Regions from separate parts of the Homo sapiens genome. Here all the other regions are reported to be linked to region 1. Evidence: microRNA targets listed by miRTarBase, many of them from high-throughput screens and not tested one by one. Region 1 holds a microRNA gene; each other region holds the end of a gene's coding sequence.
Evidence for each region. Region 1 holds the annotated microRNA hsa-miR-6510-5p (CAGCAGGGGAGAGAGAGGAGUC, at 4,315-4,336, shown strand). A microRNA usually pairs through its seed, bases 2 to 8, with sites in the 3' UTR of a target mRNA and lowers its output. Matches are read on the target gene's strand: a 7mer-m8 pairs with bases 2 to 8, a 7mer-A1 pairs with bases 2 to 7 and ends in A, and an 8mer does both.

Region 1 (7,331 bases):
AAGTTTAAATCAGGAACCAGGCTCAGAGAGGCTGAGTCTCTTTCCACTGGGCTGCACTGCCTCATTCTAAGGAGAAAAGGCCAGCTCCACAGATGGCCCCATCTGGCTGCAGTGGGCAAAGGTCAGAAACTGGCACAGCATCCTGGGCAGGCTGCCTGGGGCAGGGCCCGGGGCTACAGCCTGGGCTGGGGCCAGACAGAGCTTTATCTTCGCAAGGCCATCCCACCTGGTGCTAATGAGGAGGCTCCGGGCCCCACCCAGATCTGGAGCTCACAGTAGCGGTTTGGACTGAAACCAGGGATTTGTGCGTGGGGCAGTGAGGGGGGCAGCTGCCGCCCCTGGCCTGGGCCTGAGAGTATAGAGAAAGCCACCTCGAGGGGCTGCTGGAGGAGAGTCAGGTGCAGAAGGGGATCTGGCTGGGGTCCAGCCCTTCCTCACCCTGGGGTGAAAGGCGAGTAATTGTTCTTGAGTTAATTGCTGGGGCCACAATGTCTGCAGAGGCTTTTAATGAGCTCTGGATGATCTGAGTTTGATTATTTTTCTTTCGGAGGAAAAGACAATACCCTCCCACCCATGAGACAATACCACACTGTCTGTGCCCAGCATTGGAGGCCAGGCTCACTGCGAAGATGGATGAGAAGGAACCCACCCCCAGCCTTGCTGGCTGGCAGTTCCCCTTGCCAGCCCAGCTCAGATGCAGGAATTTGGGGTCTGCAGGAAGGACTCTTTCCCTGTGCCCTGTTTGGTTGAGGGTGTGAGGACCTGTTTGAGTCCTGGCTTTGCCCCTTACCAGTGGTGCCACCTGGCACAAGTTGCTTCACCTCTCCAAGTTTCAATTTCATTCTTTCTGAATCTTGGGTGGGGGTCACCCTCTGTTGTGAGGATGAGAGGAGGTGATGGATGCAAAAGTGCTTTGTAAATCACAAAGTGCAGGGTAGAAGTAAAGGATTATGCTATTATAGCAAAATAAGAACCTAAGAACAACCTGCGTTGCCCCATAGGAGCTGGCTATGGAAGGTCGATGCCGTTGAGCCTAAGAACATGCTCAGGCTCACAGGGCATGTTCTGATGCCCAACGACAAAGCCCCTCCTGGTGAGGGCACTCAGGCGCAGGTGCCGGTCATGCACCCTGGCCCCTGCATGTCTGGCACCTGGGTGGGGATCCAGGAGGGGGCAGGATGGGGGCTCTTGGGCCACAGGGCTTCCCTGGAAGTGAGAGTTGAGAGCGCCCCTTGCCACAGGGAAACAGAGACTTAAAAAGGTAAATGTCCACAGTCTTACCATGGTAATTGGTAGGGTCAGGATTTGAACCCAGGCCTCACAGTCTTACCATGATAATTGATAAAGCCAGGATTCAAACCCGGGCCTGAGGGACTCCAGAGCCCTGTCCACTTCACCATGCTGCAACCTGGGCTAGGAATCCTCCTCCTGAGTTTCTGTAAGCCCTGGGGCCAGGTCCAGAGGGCTGAGCCACACCTCCAAGTGGCACTGCCCACAGGTATCAGGTGTCCCTGGAAAGGTGTCCCTGAGCTGGTGGCAGAGAAAAGGGCTCTCCTGAGTGTTCAACTCCCCGTCTGTGTGAAGCAATGCCTTGGTCTTCAAGATCTCCGGTGTCTTCCAGCCTGCCTGCCAGTCTCCCTTCTCTTCCCTTCCACAGCATTCAGGCACATAGAGCCTTCTGCAGCGGCCCGTCCCCAGCCAGCACTTGACAGGACAGATGGGGGCTAATCTGGCCCTGCTAAGCAGCGACATGCCTCTCCTGGAGAAGGCAGGGGCTTCCTGGAACTTGCCCCAGCCTTATCAGCGGAGGTTTGCCCCAACACATCCCAGAAACGAGCAAAGGTTCAGCGCCGTGCAGTTGGCAGGTGTCGGGATCATCAGTCATCCCCTTGTCAGTCCCAAGCCTGCTGGGCTTTTGTGAGGGTGCCAGGAACACAGGCTGGAGGATGGCAGGAGGGGAGTAGAGGTGGGAGGAGGGGAGTCCATCTGCAGCACCAGGTAAGGGGATGGATGCTGGCTCCTCTGGTCACCTCAGCTGGAACACTACTCAAGGTCCCTGGCTCCTGTCCTCCACCTGCCCCCAGGGGCCCTGCATTCCCATCCCCAGGGCCTCCACTCTCCCTGAGCCCTGCAGTCTCTCACTCACTCACTCACTCACTCATTCACTCACTCACTCACTCACAGGGTTTTGAGTTGGATAACACAGCATAATGATCGGCCAGTGGACTCCCAAACTAAGAACACGGAGCTGTCCTCTTGGGGAGAGGCTCAGGGCTCGGGGAAGTGAAGTCCAGCTGAGGGCACAGTTGGCCTGAGCTGCTCTCAGTACAGGCAGAGGCCTTGGTAGCTGTGCTGTGATGAGAGTTCGCTCCCTGCTGCTCTCTTCTGGCATGGAGAGATGAACCTGTAATCCAAGTGTTAAAACCGTGCCCTGGGGAAAAACACTATTAATTCTGAATCATCTCTTTTGTTGCATTAAAAAAAAATAGAAGAGAAAAACTTCACATGACCCACTCAAGGTGTGCAGGCAGCTGTGTTTGTCAGGAAGGCAGAAGGAGTTGGCTTTGCTTTAGGGGAGGAGACGAGGTCCCACAACACCCTCTGAAGGGTATATAAGGAGCCCCAGCGTGCAGCCTGGCCTGGTACCTCCTGCCAGCATCTCTTGGGTTTGCTGAGAACTCACGGGCTCCAGCTACCTGGCCATGACCACCACATTTCTGCAAACTTCTTCCTCCACCTTTGGGGGTGGCTCAACCCGAGGGGGTTCCCTCCTGGCTGGGGGAGGTGGCTTTGGTGGGGGGAGTCTCTCTGGGGGAGGTGGAAGCCGAAGTATCTCAGCTTCTTCTGCTAGGTTTGTCTCTTCAGGGTCAGGAGGAGGATATGGGGGTGGCATGAGGGTCTGTGGCTTTGGTGGAGGGGCTGGTAGTGTTTTCGGTGGAGGCTTTGGAGGGGGCGTTGGTGGGGGTTTTGGTGGTGGCTTTGGTGGTGGCGATGGTGGTCTCCTCTCTGGCAATGAGAAAATTACCATGCAGAACCTCAATGACCGCCTGGCCTCCTACCTGGACAAGGTACGTGCCCTGGAGGAGGCCAATGCTGACCTGGAGGTGAAGATCCATGACTGGTACCAGAAGCAGACCCCAACCAGCCCAGAATGCGACTACAGCCAATACTTCAAGACCATTGAAGAGCTCCGGGACAAGGTGAGTCCTCGGATGTCAAAGAGAGGGGAGCAGGTGGCTGGTACCCTGTACACAGCTCTAATGTCAGTGTTACTGCTGACTCAAGGAAATCCTTTCCTGCCCAGGCAATGACTGTCTGGTATGTAATCTCAGCAAATTTGGAATGCACCTGCTGTCCAGGTGCAGAGGCCAGTGCACATCTTCTCAACTTGGTGGTGCTGGGGGAGGGAGAGAGGGGTCTTGGGAATCTGGTTAGGACCAACAGGGGCACAGGTGGGGGCAATTATAAAGAGCCAGAGGCAGTAGCTCACACCTGTAATCCCAGTGCTTTGGGGGGCCAAGGTGATAGGATTGCTCGTGTCCAGGATTTAGAGGCTGCAGTGAGCTATGACTGTGCCACTGCACTCCGGCCTAGGTGACAGAGTGGAACCTGTATCTAATTAAATAAAAATAATTAAAAAAAAAGAGCAACTCGCCCTCCCTACCTCATGCACCCTGCAGGCTTCTGCATAAAGTATTCCTTTACCTCTTTTGCAAGAATGGGATTGGAGTGTGGCCTCATGAGTTCCAGATGCTAGAACCTCTTGTCTTTTCCTATAAAGAGGTCTTTTGTGCCAAAAGTACTGTTGGGTCTTAGGAGACCTGGGAACTCATTACACATTCTGCCACCCACTCACTCACCATTTTACTCCCTAAGACTGGGTTCCTCATTCGTAAAATGCCTTCTTAACTGCCCTCCAGGTTGCTACTGGCTGGAATGTTCTGTAGATCCATGGCTGTGTCCAAGGTGTGCAGGAGGCAGTGACCATGAGTTGTCCACAGTGGGGCTGGTGGAGTGTCTCTGAGAGAGCTATTGTCAGAGCTGGCTGCACCCCACTGCCCCACTCTCCTGGGCAACCAATTCCCACAGGCAATACTGCCTCCTTGGTCTTTCGTGCCCTGGAGATAAGGAAGGCAGCTCCTCAGGTGTCTCAAGGAGGCTGGATGGGACAAAACAAGAAATGGACACTGAAAGTGAGGCTGGACTTTGCCCACCCCAGAAGCCGTACAGATTTTTGTTGGTGGTGTCAGAGGGGTGATTGTCAGTGAGGGGTGATTTTCAATGAGGGGCTGGCCTTGGGTGCAGAGCAGAGAGCAGCAGGGGAGAGAGAGGAGTCCTCTAGACACCGACTCTGTCTCCTGCAGATCATGGCCACCACCATCGACAACTCCCGGGTCATCCTGGAGATCGACAATGCCAGGCTGGCTGCGGACGACTTCAGGCTCAAGTGCGCTCCCCCGTCTCTCTCCTCTTCCTGCATTGCCCACTTTACTTGGCCTTCTCCTGGCTCTGACTCAGGCAGCCAAGACCCCTCCCACTTCCTTCTTTGGCCTCCCTCTCCTCAGGTATGAGAATGAGCTGGCCCTGCGCCAGGGCGTTGAGGCTGACATCAACGGCTTGCGCCGAGTCCTGGATGAGCTGACCCTGGCCAGGACTGACCTGGAGATGCAGATCGAGGGCCTGAATGAGGAGCTAGCCTACCTGAAGAAGAACCACGAAGAGGTGAGAGCTGGCCCCCATCACCCCTGAACCCGAGAGAGGTGGGGAACCTCTTCCCAAAACTCACTTAAATTGCCCAGAGGGAAAGACAGTGGCTCCAGGAAGCCCTCCCAGATTTTCACGAGATTAAGTCAGTGGGAGGCAGAGTGGGGCTGTTGGTACTTCCTCATAGTTGGCCTGGGGCTTAGTGGTTCAGAAACACACCTACCCCACAAAACCAGGTGTCCTCATGGAGAGGAAGGGGCAGTGTCTGGTAGCCCAGGCCCACAGCCAGCCCAGGTGGCCCGTATGAATGGTTGACTTCCTGATTGGCTTTGTGAGCTCACATCAGGGCCCTACAGTCTCGGGGTCCTCCCTTGGTAGGACCTAGAGCAGCAGAGAACTCCTTAGAGCTGAGGGGTCCATGTGACCAAACCTCTTCATGTGCAATGGGGAACAGCGGTTGGGGTGTGTTACGGGCAGAGCCAGGATTGGCATGTGTGACGCCAGACTCTCAGGTCTCTCTTCTGCTCTCCGTCTCTAAGTGGGTCCCTCCCATCCTGCAGGAGATGAAGGAGTTCAGCAGCCAGCTGGCCGGCCAGGTCAATGTGGAGATGGACGCAGCACCGGGTGTGGACCTGACCCGTGTGCTGGCAGAGATGAGGGAGCAGTACGAGGCCATGGCGGAGAAGAACCGCCGGGATGTCGAGGCCTGGTTCTTCAGCAAGGTGGGCCTTATATCCTGCCCTGCCCTTCCTGCCCCAGGTCCCTGAGTCTCCGAGGAGGCCCCGGGGCTCACTTCTGTTGTGCATGACCTACAGACTGAGGAGCTGAACAAAGAGGTGGCCTCCAACACAGAAATGATCCAGACCAGCAAGACGGAGATCACAGACCTGAGACGCACGATGCAGGAGCTGGAGATCGAGCTGCAGTCCCAGCTCAGCATGGTACGGCCACTCGCGCCCCATCCCAGCCTCTCGGGTGGTAGAAGCTCCCACTCTTCCTGGCTATTTAAGCCTTGGAGTTCTCAAGCCCCCTCAAGAGGTGGTTCCCTGAACTCCATTCAGTGCCCCCTCCCTGCTTGCCCTCAGTGGCTTCCTTTCTAGCCTGATGTGTCTATGCATCTGTCACTCCCCCAGAAAGCTGGGCTGGAGAACTCACTGGCCGAGACAGAGTGCCGCTATGCCACGCAGCTGCAGCAGATCCAGGGGCTCATTGGTGGCCTGGAGGCCCAGCTGAGTGAGCTCCGATGCGAGATGGAGGCTCAGAACCAGGAGTACAAGATGCTGCTTGACATAAAGACACGGCTGGAGCAGGAGATCGCTACTTACCGCAGCCTGCTCGAGGGCCAGGATGCCAAGTAGGCGCCTGGGCACAGGGGAAGGAGTGATGAGGGCTGCTTGTGGCTAGGGTGCAGGGTCATCCTAAGGGAATGGCAGGGTGTCCCTAAGCAGCCTTGAGGGACTGTGAAAAGAGAACTGAGCAAGGAGGGAGGATCTGGACTCCTCACTCTGGTCCTTGGCTGTTACCTGGGACAGGTCACTTCCTCTCTCTGGATCCGTGTTTCTTCTGTAAATGATAGAGGCTGGGCTAGTGGTAGTTAAGATCTAGTGCTCATTCCATTCTCTGCATGAGATAGATGGGTATTCTTGTAGTTCAGAATCTTGACCAGCTCAGTGGCTCATGCCTGTAATCCCAGCACTTTGGGAGTCCAAGGCGGGTGGATCACTTGAGGTCAGGAGTTCGAGACCAGCATGGCCAATATGGTGAAACCCCGTCTCTACTAAAAATACAAAAATTAGCTGGGCGTGGTGGCGGGTGCCTGTAATCCCAGCTACTCGGGAGGCTGAGGCACAAGAATCACTTGAACCCGGGAGGCGGAGGTTTCAGTGGGCTGAGATCGTGCCACTGCACTCCAGCCTGGGCGACAGAGTGAGATTCCGTCTCAAAAAACAAAACAAAACAAAACAAAATCTGTCTACTTGGGGATAGCAGGCCTGGATGGGCTAGCAGGATGTCCCACCCCTAGAGGAGTCAGATGTGTGGGTGGTGGTGGTGTAGGGTCTGAAGAACACTGCATAGCTATCTACATGAGCTTCCCTTACGGACACTTGAGCTTGTGCCCTTTGCTTAAATCAGCTTCCCTCTTTCTTTCAGGATGGCTGGCATTGCCATCAGGGAAGGTAGGAAGGCTTTACTCTTCTGGTGTGGGGTGGGGAGGGGAGATGTTGAAGCCACCACCCCCTTCGGAATAGGGAGGAAGGAGAAAGAGCCCAAACATCCCATTAGGTGGGAACATTCCCATTCATTAGATGCCTCTTCCCCAGTGGGAACTTCTGTCAGCCCCAGGTGAGATTGCAGCTGGTGATTTATTGAGAAACTTCCAGGTTGAGTAGGCTTCATTCAGGGCATGTCTCTCCCCCAGGCCCCATCTTCATACACTTCCGCTAAGATGCCCACAATTCATCCCCCTTCATGTGCAGCTTGAAAAACCCTGACATTGTTGCTCCCTGCCGGGCATACCTGCCATTGCCACTGCCCATCTCTGTGATGAGGAATTCAACACCAGATCTCTGGCAGCTCTTGAGGGATTGGCCAGTGGCCATTCTCAGGGGTGCTGTCTAGTTTTCCCA
Region 2 (7,331 bases), not on the chromosome of region 1:
ACCAAGGTGGAGTTAAAAGGTTGAAACTCCACCCCTCTTCCGCGGGGAACGGACCGGGTTTCGGATAGGTAGGGCCTCCCTGATTGGGCCCGAAGGCCAAGATGGGAGGTCTGAGATGGCGGGAAAAGGAAGAAAGGGGCTCAGGGGCGGCATTCGATTGGTAATAAAGAGGAGGAGGCGTGGCGCACCATTTCAGGAGAGGCGGGACCAAGAGCTCCCCCACGTGGGATTGGAGTGCCTGTGGTATGACGTCATGCAGAGCTGCACCGCCAATTTCTTGGTTTTGGAGAAAGCCCAAGTTGCGAAGTTGAGGGGTTGTGGAGCTTCAGGATTTCCCTCTACTCATTCGGTTTGGCAGGATTTGGTCTGGGATATATATATATGTTCTTTTGCCGACTTTCTCTAGTTTTCATACTCTAAGCACATTCCTTATCCTTCAACTTTTTCCTGCCTGCCCTTACAAAAGGAAAGGATACGATCGTATTTGGAATGAAAGTGTTTGAAAACTAACCCCGTCTATCCCGTCCCTAATCCCCTACCTTCTTTGTGTGGTGTAACGACTGACCCTGGAGAAAACTGGAGAGTCAGAGAATTACAGAGTTGAGATAATCCAGCCTTCAGGGAAAGGGGGAAAAAAAGCAGAGTGAATAGAAAGTGAGGCTTTATTTCTTTTTGGAAATTTCCAAGAGTTAGTAAGTCATCTCTATCTTAGAGGATGGATGTAAGACTAGTTGGCTCCAAAAGGGAGGGAGGCAGCGCAAATTATTACATTTTCCAATAATTTTCTGACCCTGAAGAACTTCTAGGACACTAAAATGAGGGATCAAGAGTAAGGGAAAGACAATTCCTTTTCACATTTGCCTGAGTTAGAAGGAAGGTTTGCCATACAGTCAGGTGCAGAACTAGTGCAGTCCCACAGTGTACGGTGTAGGTTTAGGAAGGAAAAAGTGCAGGGTACACCGATGACTATTGTTACTAGTTAACTGGCGTTAGAGGTGGAGTGTTGTCCTAGGATCTAGGAACTAGACTAATTGGAAGTTGATGAGGGAAGTGTTGGTCATAAGATGATTACCTTTTAATGCAGTATATATGGGGCATATTATGTAAATCTGTCAGATGCAGCAGAAGAACTGGGGTTGATCACTGGGAAGAAACTAGCCATTTCTTAGAGGAAGTGTCTTACAGGATGAGGCCTGCAGCTGATAAATTTTATCTGGTTCTGCAGGGCATAGATTTCATCAGCCTGTGTTTACCAAAGCTGCTTAAAACCTGTCCCTGCTCAGCCTCTATCACTTAAATTTTTTCACTTCCTTTTCTCTACTTCCCTAGGGCTAGCAGTATCTTGACTGCTTCATTCAGTTTGCAGAACTATTTAAGAAACAATATTCTGTCTCCTATATCCTCCATATTCCCAGAGGTAAGCAGGTAGAAAAGGGAAACAAGGAAATTGGAGGAATTATGAGTGACCTGCTCACCAACTGATAAAGCAGAACTACAGAAGGAACATGGATGAACCTTAGAGAGAAACCTCTCTATAAACTGAAATTTGCCAAGCACTGGAGTAGGCAAGGAGGTTCCTGAGAATGGGGGAATGGAGAGGGTGACCTATGGAGGTTCTTTTCCAAACTTCTCCCTTCCTCACCTCATCCAGATCATCAGAAATTATATAGGGGATAAAACTTCATCCTCAGGAAGTTCTTGTCCCAGCTGGGGCCCAGGAGCCACAGGATCAGCAGCTGCAATGCAGTTACCAACACAAGTAAACAGGGTGGGTCCCCGCCCACTGACAATTCTGCTGCCCAGGTGCCACCTGGTGGTGATAAGCAGTAAGTGGACAACAGGAAGGGATGCCCATTTGTTAGAGGAAGTGTCTTACAGGATGAGGCCTACAGGAGGAGAGAGAGTAAACTTCCTGGACTTGCAATCTGCATTTATATGTAAACCATAATCACCTCCAAGAGGCAGAGGGTGAGATACGGTACTCTGATCTCAGCTCACAAAGATGGGAAGGGCAACAAGATTTGAGGAAACTCCTTCTGTATTCTTTATTCCTCAAAAGTTACTGCCAAGCCAGTCGCGGTGGCTCATGCCTGTAATCCCAGCACTTTGGAAGGCCGAGGCAGTTGGATCACCTGAGGTCAGGAGTTCAAGACCAGCCTGGCCAACATGGCGAAACCCCGTCTCTACTAAAAATACAAAAATTAGCCGAGCATGGTGGCATGTACCTGTAATCCCAGTTACTCTACTTGGGAGGCTGAGGCAGGAGAATCACTTGAACCCGAGAGGCGGAGGCTGCAGTGGGCCGAGATCACGCCACTACACTCCAGCCTGGGCAACAGAGTGATACTCCGTCTCAAAAAAAAAAAAAAAAAATTACTGCCAAGTAGTGATCGCTTTGTTGGATGGCTATATCATTAGAACTTTCTTTTGTCGTCTGGAGTGAGACTGCCTGAATAGATTCCTGGCCCCATTCCTTACTTGCAGAACCCTGGGCAGGTTACTTTTTAAGCCTGCTTTCTCCTCTGTAAAATGGGTACAATAATATTACCCATTGTGTCAATGAGATGTTGCATGTAAAGTGCCTAGCACAGAGCCTTGGCTTATATTAAGCAGTCAACAAATGCTAGCCGGCTGGGTGCGGTGGCTCAACGCCTGTAATCCCAGCACTTTGGGAGGCCGAGGTGGGCGGATCACGAGGTCAGGATATGGAGACCGTCCTGGCTAACACGGTGAAACCCCGTCTCTACTAAAAATACAAAAAGAAAATTAGCTGGGCACCTATAGTCCCAGCTACTCTGGAGGCTGAGGCAGCAGAATGGCGTAAACCCTGGAGGCAGAGTTTGCAGTGAGCAGAGATCGTGCCACTGCACTGAAGCCTGGGCCACACAGCTAGACTCCGTCTCAAAAAAAAAAAAAAAAAAAAAGTTAGCCATTATTCTAGAAATCCCTTTTTACTTCCTGTGTAGCAAACAGGATCTTCCTCCACTGGGCAGCCCTTCAAATATTTGAAGACTTCTATTTGAAGCTTTCTCTTGCCAGCCTTTTTTTTCTAGCAACACACTGGTTTGTCAATGGCCCTCTTTAAAAATTACATTTAGAACAACACACTACTAAGTGGTTACACTTAGGCAGAACATAGAACTGCTGTATTTGTAATCTATTACCAAGGTTCTACTACCCTTATGGAGCTCCTAGAAAGATGCCTAGAACATAGCAGGCTCTTAATAAATATTTATAAATGGACATCTTGAGGGCTAAGATTCTATTTTTTTGCAGCCAACTGGAAGTCCCAGTTTGTTCTCATGTGAATTATTGCTAATATAAATCTCTAACATTGTTCCTCAAACTAGTTCAAGATCTAAGCAATTTTTTAGTGTGAGAGTGCTCCAGTGTTTTAGTCAATTCAAGTTACAGACACTTTGAATATTATTTAGCTCTTCCTGTGTTACTGTTGATAAATGGGTTTTTTACATGTTTACCCGAGTTGGGTTTTTTCTTTTTACAATAAAACATAGCCCTTGGGCTTATCACTAGAGAACAGAGATTTCTCTAACATAAATGCGCTAACCAACACTAAGTACAAGTGTTCAGTTTGATTCTACCAAATGCTACTATTTTTTTCTCATTATTTTTTAACCAGAGCCATTTGCATGGAAAAAATGCTACGATTAACTGACCCGTAATTTTCCTCTTATCTGTGATGACTTAGCAGGTGAGAGAGAGGAAAGTAGCTCCTGTAATCTGGGAACTGGCCTGACACAGCCAGGCTTCAGAGCTGTTAGGGCTGACCTGGTGCTCACAGGTAGCCAATGAGTTCTCTTGGACACAAACAATCTCACAAAACACCAGCATCAGACAAGGTCACTCAGTGACTGCGATGAAGTGAGACAAAAAACAAAATCACTACACAATTTTGTTTAAGCACAAAACAAGGTCAGTGTGCAAACCACAAAACAGCAAACATCCCCTTTCCCAGCTAGTGAGTGACTTCATCATCGACTGTGCTTAGGTTCACTTGTCTGCCCTTCTTCTAGACAAGCTACCCAATTATCCTGGATTCCCTTAACAGCACCCAATCCAAAAGAACACCCACTTTCTTGAATCTTCCCCAAAATCACTTAACCAAAGTCTAAGTTCTCTAAGTCGTTCCTAACACCCTCATGCTGAGACACACCACGTTATCCCCAATGGTGAGCCCTCCCCCTCACTGCAATGAGCATTAAACCCAACTTGCTCAATTACCAGGTGTATTCTTGGTGGTCTTCAGCTGGAGTAAATACATACAAGACATACAATGTCTAAAATTTCCCAAATCTACCTCTTTGGAGATAACCTGGCAAGGAGGAAATAAAGTCAGTCAGGATTTGACTGAGAATTCATGTTGGTATCTATGGTTACATTCTTCTCTAAATGCTCTTAAACCATCTCTTTTAATAGTCTAGAATTGCCGGGCACGGTGGTTCATGCCTGTAATCCCAGCACTTTGGGAGGCTGAGGCGGGCGGATCACGAGAGATAGAGACCATTCTGGCCAACACGATGAAACCCCGTCTCTACTAAAAATAAAAAAATTAGCCGGGCGTGGTGGCGGGCGCCTGTAGTCTCAGCTACTCGGGAGGCTGACGCAAGAGAATCGCTTGAACCCAGGAGGCGCAGGTTACAGTGAACCGAGATTGCGCCACTGCACTCCGGTCTGGTGACTGGGCAAGACTCCATCTCAAAAAAAAAAAAAAAAATTGTGTCCCAAAAAACATTAAGCTTATCAATGTGTTGTTTCTAAAATCCACAATGTTAGCCCACTTTTAGTCTTTAGGCTTTTTTTTTTAATGACTGGCCTTGACCTAGCCCACCATCTCCAATCCCAGATGTGACCTGAGTGATCAACCAGACAAGAAAGCAAGAGGTAGCAGGAGACATGATGAGGGGGAACACAATCCAGGATCACTCTCTACCCCCAAATCTACTGTCCCATTAGACTAGACACCTGAGTTGTTTTCCCTACATCAGCCGTGAGCTGAGGAGGAACTGAGGTTTGACTATTGGGGCCCCTGGCCTTACTGACTTAAGTAGATTTAAAACTTCTGGTCCTATGTGGAGACAGAGGAAAGGGATGGACCCTGAGGCTTGTGTCCCTAGAAGGACTCTCTTTTCCCAGACCTCCCAAGCCTTGAAGGCTTCAGGAACTGGCCACTGAAGGGGTGGGGTAGGAGGGACATTAACTGCCATCAACTGAGCGGCAACTGCCATCAACTCAATGGCCATCAACTCCACCTGTCCTGCTCTGTTTGAATAAGGATCTGTCAACTATGTAACATCCCATCCGCATTTCAGCAAATACACTCTCCTTACTGCCTGCCCTGCTAAATGACCCTAGGAGCCCTGGTTACTGAGGCAACCTGGGAATAGCACATACAGACAGAGACCAGAAACAGATGGGACTATTTTTAAAACTAGACTGGGTGGCTCCAAAGCTTTTACCCCATAAAGTGCCTTCCCCAAAGCCCCATTTGGTCTTGTTCTGGGTCCCTACCCTTCTTCACTGGCTTCTATCCATCTTACCAAAGCTATGTGAGGCTGGGGTCTTTATCCCATTTTGGCATGAGATCTATTTACTGCTCCCATCTTCCACACAGAATAGCTAAGCAAGTTTTCACTGCCTCCATTTGTTAAAAATAATTGTTCTTTTATTTCTTTGGAAAGTAGTGGGCCCTGCCCTATGGATTTTCAGGTCAAACTAGGGTAATGAATGCTCCCCTAGTCTTTGGGCTGGAGCACTATGGTCCCAGCTTTCCCAGGGCCCAGAAGCAATTCCTGTATTGTCCAACCCAAGCAACTAGGACCCAAATTGTCTGAAGGCTCCTATCAGGCCTTCTCTCCTGACCACCCACTTCCCAATCTTTCCTGGCTTTCCCTCTGGGCAGGGTATTTTTTTCTTCTAAAACCAGTGCTGGAACCTGTGCTGTGCAGAAGAGAGGACAAGACGAGGGATGTTCCCAAATTCCCATAAGAGGACACAGCCCCTCAGTCAGTCCTTCCTCTCTGCTGGCTTCAGTCTGCACTCCTCTGCAAGCCCCCACTGTGAGGCTTGAAGATGGACAAGAGGACCCTCATAAAAGGGAGGTGAGAGAAAACACACCATCCCAACCCCTCCTCAGGACATACTCCTTGTAGTCTCTTGTCCTAGTTCTCAAGGGAGCCCTTCAGACAGGGATGGGGAAGGCTAGGTGAGTGGGCAAGGGCCCCCTGACCCCAGCCCTGCGAGGCTATACCAGGGGAGTGTCCATTAGCCCCATCAGTGTGGCATGGCCGTGATGCGCATGCTCTGGGAAGCGATAGGGTAAGTCACCATGGGAGTGGTGGTGTGGCTCATTGTGATTCCTGCCAAGGGTTGGGCCATCGATACAGCCACAGGGGCCACAGGAGCCACAGATACAGCCACAGGAGCCATGGAGACAGGTGGAGGTGCCATTCCCTGGGCAATTGTTTGAGCCAGGGCAGCTGACAGTGGCGTGATCTCTGGGGTCAAGTGTGGGGGTGGGGGTGGTGGAGCAGCAGGAGGTGCAGCATTAGTTGGGGGAGCAGCTGGAGCTCCAGCAGGGGCCACCAGTTCTTGCTGGGACACTGGACGAGGCTGTAGAGCCTGGCTGCTGAGAGTAGTGTGAGTCTGGGCAATGCCATGGTTAAAAGTGGCAACAGTGCCCACAGTGGGGGCCAGAGTCTGCTCAGTCGCTGGTGCAGTGGAGCTCAGGGTTATGACCTTGGCCTGATTGCGGAACTGAGCATTTTGTTCCAGTAGTACCTCATTGGTGGCCAGCAGGTTGCTGACCTGCTTCTTTAACTCCTCTACCCGCTTCCTGAGCATGGCATTCTCCTCCTCTAGCAGTCTGCACTCCACCCCTCGCGGTGGAGCCAAACTATATTCATATGACTCAAAATGAGGGCCATCAGGGGGGCAGCATCCACCTCGCCGGCGTTTTGGGCCTGGCTCATGGTCCTCAAAGCCCCTGTCAGGAAGGTCATAGATATCATAGAGATCATGACGTCGTCCTGGGAGGACTGAGCCTGTTGAGCCCCCACCAGTGCCTCCTCCACCCCGAGCATCAAACTCAAAATCCCGTTGCAGGTGACGGAACTTGCACTTGGCTCCTCTCTGACAGTCACCCTTGAGAAAGTCACGGCAGATAGGGACCTCCTCCTTGCCATTTGGTAGGTCAGCCGGTGAAAGGCCAAGGCCAGCTGCTACTTTCTGCCTCAGCCGTGGGGGAAGCTCTCCTGTCTTCTTATAGCCATCCTCATCCTCCTTGGAGCCATGGATGAAACGGCAATTTGGGC
Region 3 (7,331 bases), not on the chromosome of region 1:
TTACTGTCCACTTAATAGCTGGAGAGGGCATCGAGAGGCAGCCTTGGGCTTCCCACAGATACAGTAGGTGTGTGTATGTGCTTGTATGTTAGGAGGGGAGAATAAGAGGGAAGGAGAGAGAGAGGGGAGAGAGAGAGAGAGAGAGAGAGAGAGAGAGAGAGAGAGAGAGAGACTGACTGATTGTGGATGTGTGTGTACATCAGGGAACTCGATGGGAAAGCCTAGCCCTTGTAGTCAATTTCTCCTTCACAAGGGGATAAACAGGCAATTACGCATCCTTTTATATTTGATGGCCAAGTGCTGAACTGGAAAGCACACTATTAGTTTGTGTCCCTTCAGGGCCAGGGCAATAAGTAGCCAGGAGAGCTGGGCTGAAGCAGAGAGGGTGTTGTCTGCTGTTAGTGTGACAGTCTTGTCAGCAGCGTTCACATTACTGGAAGGTAATAAAGTGACAAGTATGTTATTAGAAAGATACGAGGTGAAATTGAACTGAAGCTTCTTGCTGCTCAGCCCTGGCTTTTTTCTTTCCTCTTTTGTAATGGTCCACTATTTGTTACAGACTGAGCCTTGGTCTTCATATCCTATATAAAAAAGATTTTTTTTTTTCCTGCAGTAAAGGTCAAATGAATTTACAACAGCACTTTAGAGGAGAAGAATAAAGATAGTTTTATGACAACTATAGTATGTTGCTCCAAAAATATATATAGCATTATAATGAACAATAATGCTGATCCAATTCAGTGTACATGTAAAAATGCTTAGTTTTTTTTTTTTTTTTAACCTCCTGTTATTTGGATTTGGATTAAAATCATTTGGATTAAAAAAGATTTGGATTAATCTTTTGGATTAAAAGCATTTGGATTTTTCAACAAATGCCAAAAAGACAGTATGCCGAATAACATAGTTATTGCCGAATGAGCACAGAAAATCATTTTGCGCAAGATGTGGGAAGGATGAGGATGATGAAACTACACAAGGAAGGACGGGTATGTGGGCAACAGTGATGACAGATAACTCACTGGTCAGTTGTACAGCTGGAATTACACAATACTTTTTGAAAATGACCATTTATGGTGAGCAACACTCCAGCTACAGGAAATATGCGACTCGTCTGGGACAGATCAAACATGACCTTAGTACTAACGCAAACAAGACTACCACGTGTGGTTTATCTCTGAGGGAAAATGTGAAGAGAAGTTACTTACATACCTCATAGAACAGTAAATGAGCTCCCATTTTGATCAAGGTCTTTAGCCTAGTATTAATTACAATCATGGCTTTGTTGTGTTGCTACAGTGGCAAGCATGAGTAATGATCAAGAAAGGAACGATCCATGCTGGTGCCATTCGCACCTACTCCTCTGTTAGGATGAAAACGAGGTGTTACCACTGGCCTTTTCTATAGCCTTGCTGACCCCTGGCATCTTTCGGTTCTCAGGGGATTCCAGCAACACTTCCCACTCAAAAACAAAGCAAAAGCAACCAAAACCCCACAATTGTCGGCTCTTCCTGACCCCAAAGGAACTTCAGCTATTTCATGCAGCTGTACTTGCTTTCCTAACCCCTTCCTCAGAGCCGACTCACCTGGTCATAGGAACTCTGCAGGTCCCTACGATCAATACGCTCTCACCCACTGCGAGGCAGAGCTATGCCAGTCTTTTCTCTCGAGCCAACATTTCCAGTGCATTCATGATTTCCTTTTCTAGCTACCCCAAAACCAGGGCAGGAACCGACCCTCTACTTAGTTCTGATGAAAACACTGTGATCCCTCCAGTCTTTCTGGTATCTTTTATTGCTCATCTTACTCATTTAGATCCATCCCCAAAAAATAAACAATGAGAGGGAAAAGCAAAACCACCTAATTTAAATACTTCAAGTTTGGGAGAAGATAAGTGATTTTAAAGAATGAAATTCGTTTGTCATAATTTTAAAAAAGAAGCTCTTAAGAAAAGGGTGTGACCACAGGATGAAAAAAAGTTTCTTCTGGATGATTTGTTTCTTGATGATAGCAGATGTAGCGTGTCTTATGACAGGTGAATTTTATTTACTCTGTTAGTCAATCTAACCCAATGCTAACAGACCAGATACAAGTTAGGACTGCTCAGGTCAAGCTGTCAGCAGTTAGCAGCATGTCCATCTCAATCTGGTGACTAGCTTCTTTATGCTTTAATTGTCAACGGCCCTCATTCTCATTTGCTTGGCACATATCTGGGGTGTGTACAGAGAAAGGGGAAAAAAAGGTCACATTGTATTTGGTGGGAACCTAGTGCATAGTTTCTCCTGAGGAGAAGCCTCTGGAATAGCCCATTCTTGATATATTCAAAGTTTTTTTTTTTTTTTTTTCCTTAGAGCAATGTATAATAATGGGGCTGTTAACCAGTTAAGTGCCTTTCTCCTCTTACTGGAAGGGCCTGAAAATTCATGACCAAAGAAATAACACTATGAGGACAGTGGCACCATTGTGCCAAAAAGGTTTTAAAAAATGTTTGCCATGTTGAAAAGGAAAACATTAACACCTTTAAACCTTTAAAAGGCATCAGGCTGAACAGGGCAGCTGGACTAAGATCTGGAATGAGTTACATTGGGTTGACTTATTTAAATACAATTAATATCAGAACAAAGAATGCCAAGGATTTTTATCACACTTTTAAACCAAATTCCTCATTATCTATCCTTTTTTTCTCTCTTTCCATAGCATGCAGATATTCCCGAAAGCGGACTAAACCTGATATTTACAAAAACATAGTTTTAAATGATCAAGACAGTACAAGTTTCAACATCAGCTAGAGAACATGCACAGTCATACCGCCTAATTTTGTACCTGTGATAAACTCTGGCTAAAACCAATCACATGGGGAAAAGCTTGTCGGATGAACATCTACATCACTATTAATTTTCAGCCAGCATAGAATGCATGTGGCTTGAGAGAAACTGTTTAACAACAAAAAACTCCTATGAAAAAGCAAATGAGTAGGAATGGGCAAAGATGAGCTCCATGACTAAAACGCTGATCTCTTTATCCTTCCTGTTTGCAAATAAGCCATGGGATCACCATCTTAACTAGAATTCTAGTTAAGTCAAAACAAGACACTCAGGCACACACTCAAGAACGAGCAATACTTTGGAAACAGAAGAATTGTACATTTTATGATTTTCCATTGCATGTACTACATCCATCCACTCCCCTGTCCCTTTTAAGCAAATAGGCTTTATATTGGAAAATGTTATTTACTCATTTAGAAGGCCACCGTAACGACTGGGCACTTGAGGCACAAAAGTAGTAGCAAATAGGGGAGATACTTAAAAAGTGTCAGCTGTCCAGGACTTATTGCCACTTCTCTGACAAAACACAGGTGAACACATTCATGTTTCCAAGCAAGGGAAACTCTACTTCTAGAATCTCATTACTTCTGGACTTTTTCTAACTGGCTATACACATTAGCTTGGTTTGCAGCAAGTAACAAACATTTGTTCTAAGCCTGGTGCATTTGCTGATGTGACTGCCGACAGCTATGTAATTCACTCACGAGGGCTATCTGACCTTTTATTTGACATTAAATTAAACAGACTAAACATTGCTGTTGTACAAGATGAGTTCTAGTAACTCAACTGAGTGTAACTTTTCAAAGTTGCTGAAATAAAAATGTGTATTTATTTTCATAAAACTACATGTAGTCTATGCACACTGCAAAAGCCAGAGTTTCTATAATGTTTTGTTGGGATATTAAAAATCTTTTCCCACCCTTTTTGAATCTAACCATTTGGTAATGGGGCAACAGCACAACACAGAGAACGCTGAGAGGACCAAAATGTTTGCAAACAAACTTTCATTATTCTAGTTCAATCTTTCACAAACATACTGTACAGAGTCTTATATGGTATAAAACAAAGGAAAACATCTGTCTGTTCAATTTAACACAACACCAAAATAAAGCAATTAAGACTTTGGGGAATTCAAAGTACAAGAAAACAAAAACGATTATTACTAATTCCTCAGCTTTTTACCATAAACACTTGTCATTTAACATAGTGTTTGATATAGTTTCTTTTGTACTGCAAATACTTTTGGTCTTTCCTCCCCGTAGAACAAATGAAGAATTAAAATGGACCCCATAGCATCCTCTGAAGGAGGTGAAAAGATAAAGCTCCTAGACATAGCTAGCTTATCTTTAAGAATCTATTGTTTCTGAAATTTTCACAACAAAAATACTGAATCCCCAACTAATGATGCTTATTTTGGGAAACAATAAATACTGTGAGGTACAATAAATCCTACAGGAATAATAACAACAGAAACATATTAACAGTTTCCTTTGGCAAATTTAACGGAAGTGAATGCTGATGTGAACATAGAAAAAATAATTACAAAAACATGAAAAATGGAAACGACATAAAAGTTAAAATAAAGGGATATTTCTAACTTTTAGACTGATGAAAGAAATGTCTGAGGCCATTAAATGCAAAAAAGAAATACATTCTCTTTAAATTATTGTGTACTGTTTGACAAAATATTCCTTGTTTATCTCTTCTTTTCCCCTCCACTTAAAAAAAAAGGAAAAAAGAAAAAAAAAAGACAACAAAACAGTCTGCAATGCACACCCTAATGGTTTTGGCTGCAGACTGAACTTGAGTAAATATCATCATTTAGTCAGTATGTTGTGGTAGCTGAGGCTGCCGATGTGGTTAACCAGCTCAGGCAACATGTGTAAACATCGGAAACAAAACAAAACAAAAAAGGTTTGGAGAATAGTCTCTCTCCTCTTTCTCACTCTCAATTGCTTGGTTTCAGGCTTGCTTTCATTTCTCTCTGACAAATCGTGTGGGGAAACACAAAACACTGAACATTGAGAGATCCTGCTTTAAAACCCCCTTCTTCTGGCTTTTCAGAAAGGAGTGTTGCTCCATTCAAGTTTAGCACATGTTTTCAAAGCTTCCAAGTACTGCTGCTGTTAAATGCCTTTTGATTTTGTCTACCAAACAGGCCTGAATTATAGTACGACTGCAGAATTTGCAACAAATTAGACAGCCATACAACAGACCGACCCAGTTCAGAGGATTTCTTTTTAAAGGATAAGGGTTAGGGCCTTGGAAATGAGTGTTCGACTCTTTTACTGTATTCATCTTTGTTCCGTAGCGGGTAATTTGGGCTTTTGTATCCTGAAATATTATCCTGCCTCTGAAGAATAAATGCCTTGGCTGTTTCACACCACATAATTTTGTTTTCCTTTTATGTAACTTAACGTATAAGCAAGAAGGATGCAATGTTGATTCTAATAACATTCGGCACTTGAAAGAATCACCAAGTGTTTTTTTAAAAAGCGGTTTTCTGGTGGCCAACAAATTGGCCTGTGGTTATGTTGAGTGACTAATTGTATTTTCTTTTCTGGAAACTTGTGCAAAGTTGGCAGTTTTGTGTTAACACTAATACTTTGTTTGGCATTTGTGCCCTATACTGACCAGACCATTTTTATACAAGTGAATTTTTTTTAAAAAAGACACTTACTGAAGTATGGCAATAGTTTAAGGATAAAAAAGAAGCATGGTTATTACACATCCCCTTGTAGTGTATGAAAAAAAGTGCATGACGGGATTTATGTACTAGTACAGGACATTTTAAAAAATCAGATCTGTGCTGTAAAGCATGCCAGCACCTCTTTAGCACTATATCTAACAGGTAGTAAAAACAAGACCATGTTTTTTTCTTTTTTTAAAAATGTGCATTAATGCTAACATAAATGAATAGAGCTAGCCAGCAAACTATCTTTTCCTGCATATCTAACAGCTGGATGTAACTGTAAAAATTAAACAAAAAAGTTAAACAACCATCAATACAATTGTTTTACATCAATGGCCCCTCAAGGCTAAATATTTACAGGTGAATCTGCCATGCTTTAATTGAAGATTCTTTCAAAACCTTAAAGTTCACAAAAGACAACTATAAGAAGTTCCTTTTTGTTTCTTTTTTCTTTTTTTTCCCTTTTATTTTTGCAGGCAACAGTCATGGGTACAACAAATTGTCTCTTTGGGGAAGACCAAGAATTATTCTGTCAAAACTGGGGCTAGTTGCACACTGTGTGTGTGTGTGTGTGTGTGTGTGTATGTGCATGTGTGTGTGTGTGTGTTTAAAGGGGTACTCTGTTTTCACCCTGAAATCAAAGATCCCACTCCTTTCCCAAAACTATAAAGGGAAGTGAAAAAAATTCAAAAGCACCTAGTGTTTATCTTGTTTATCTCAAGGAAATACGTGTGTGTATATGTAGCCACAGAGCATACATAAATGCACACACACACACACACACACACACACCCCAAGTACATAAGCGCACACTGACTATGGCAGTTCAAACACGTAGGCCATCTGGTGAGAGCTGGCATTTGTAGTGTCCATTCTGAGACTAATCTACTGAAGTGAAGGGAATGTTTTTGTGGAGATTAGGGTTCTGACTGTGCCGATTTCGGCTTCGTACAGAGGAAAACATCATATTGCAACCTGGGACTTTGCACTTGTGCATTTCTCTCAAATGCACAGTTTTGTAGTGCACTCTCAGGGTCCCCTTGTTGCTGTACATTTTGTGGCAAATGTTGCACATGATCCCACCATTGCTCCCAGACAAGCTGCTGAACATAAGAGATCCTGAAACTTCAGCCCCTAGGCTGCCAGGGAGGGCAGGGGCCTCGGCCTTGTGTGCCGACTCCCCACTGTCACTCGCCCCGTCAATGTCATCGAGAAGAATCCCCTCATCGCTGCCTGCGTCGGATTCTCTGGAGGAATGGATACTGCTGCTGGACTGGAGGCTGGAGGTGGTGCTCAAGTCAAGGACCATGTAGTCCTCTGCCATGCCTCTCCCATACCCGTTCAGGTGGGAGTCTTCAGTCCCTGCGGGAGAGGAGGCGTCTTCCCTGACATCGAGCCCCATGGGGTGCTGGGCACCATATATCTTCACCAAAAATTCATCGCGGAGGTCCTTGCTAAGGGAGGGCTGCGACGAGTCCAGGCCCATGTCATCGAGTTCTTTGGTCAACAGTTTACGATGTAGGTTTATGTTGGCACTGTGTCTAGGAAAACAAGAGGGAAGGGGGGGTACGTGGATGGGGGGTGGGGAAAGGTGAGAAAAAGGAAAGCATTTTAAAATTGATTCAGCTTTCACTAGGTATCAAATAAGCACATTCACTTCTAATTACACCATTATAAAAGCAAGCATTCCCCTATATCCTCAGGATCTGGGAGTTAGTGGTGGTGGTGAGAGGTGCAATCAGGGGAACTTTCCATTAACATTATTTTTATAAGAGAGTTGACTCTGTCAATGGTAGGATGAATGCAAACCCGTGCAC

Region 2: miRTarBase lists ZC3H10 as a target of hsa-miR-6510-5p. Seed matches in the 3' UTR shown: 7mer-A1 at 4,904-4,910, 7mer-A1 at 3,707-3,713 and 7mer-A1 at 3,212-3,218.
Region 3: miRTarBase lists BNC2 as a target of hsa-miR-6510-5p. The part of its 3' UTR that is shown has no 7-base or 8-base seed match.

The regions. Positions count from the first base shown.
Region 1 is chr17:41,514,199-41,521,529 of GRCh38, reverse strand. MIR6510 (microRNA 6510) reads left to right here and starts at 4,313; the gene lies at 4,313-4,366. It overlaps KRT15 (keratin 15), which reads left to right and starts at 2,640. Exons shown (of 8, transcript NM_002275.4): 1 at 2,640-3,200; 2 at 4,365-4,447; 3 at 4,566-4,722; 4 at 5,265-5,426; 5 at 5,520-5,645; 6 at 5,838-6,058; 7 at 6,856-6,881. The coding sequence starts at 2,703. RefSeq lists enhancers at 1-187, 1,301-2,300, 4,005-4,889.
Region 2 is chr12:56,120,828-56,128,158 of GRCh38, reverse strand. It overlaps ZC3H10 (zinc finger CCCH-type containing 10), which reads right to left. Exons shown (of 3, transcript NM_032786.3): 3 at 645-7,331. The coding sequence ends at 6,292. Among named protein-coding and RNA genes, the nearest start is that of ESYT1, 3.8 kb to the left of the region's middle. RefSeq lists a silencer at 1-23 and enhancers at 1-220, 1,660-1,919, 6,007-7,004.
Region 3 is chr9:16,412,595-16,419,925 of GRCh38, forward strand. It overlaps BNC2 (basonuclin zinc finger protein 2), which reads right to left. Exons shown (of 7, transcript NM_017637.6): 7 at 1-7,055. The coding sequence ends at 6,395. LOC124902125 (a long non-coding RNA gene) reads left to right here. Exons shown (of 3, transcript XR_007061425.1): 3 at 2,695-2,782. Among named protein-coding and RNA genes, the nearest start is that of LINC03041, 140 kb to the left of the region's middle.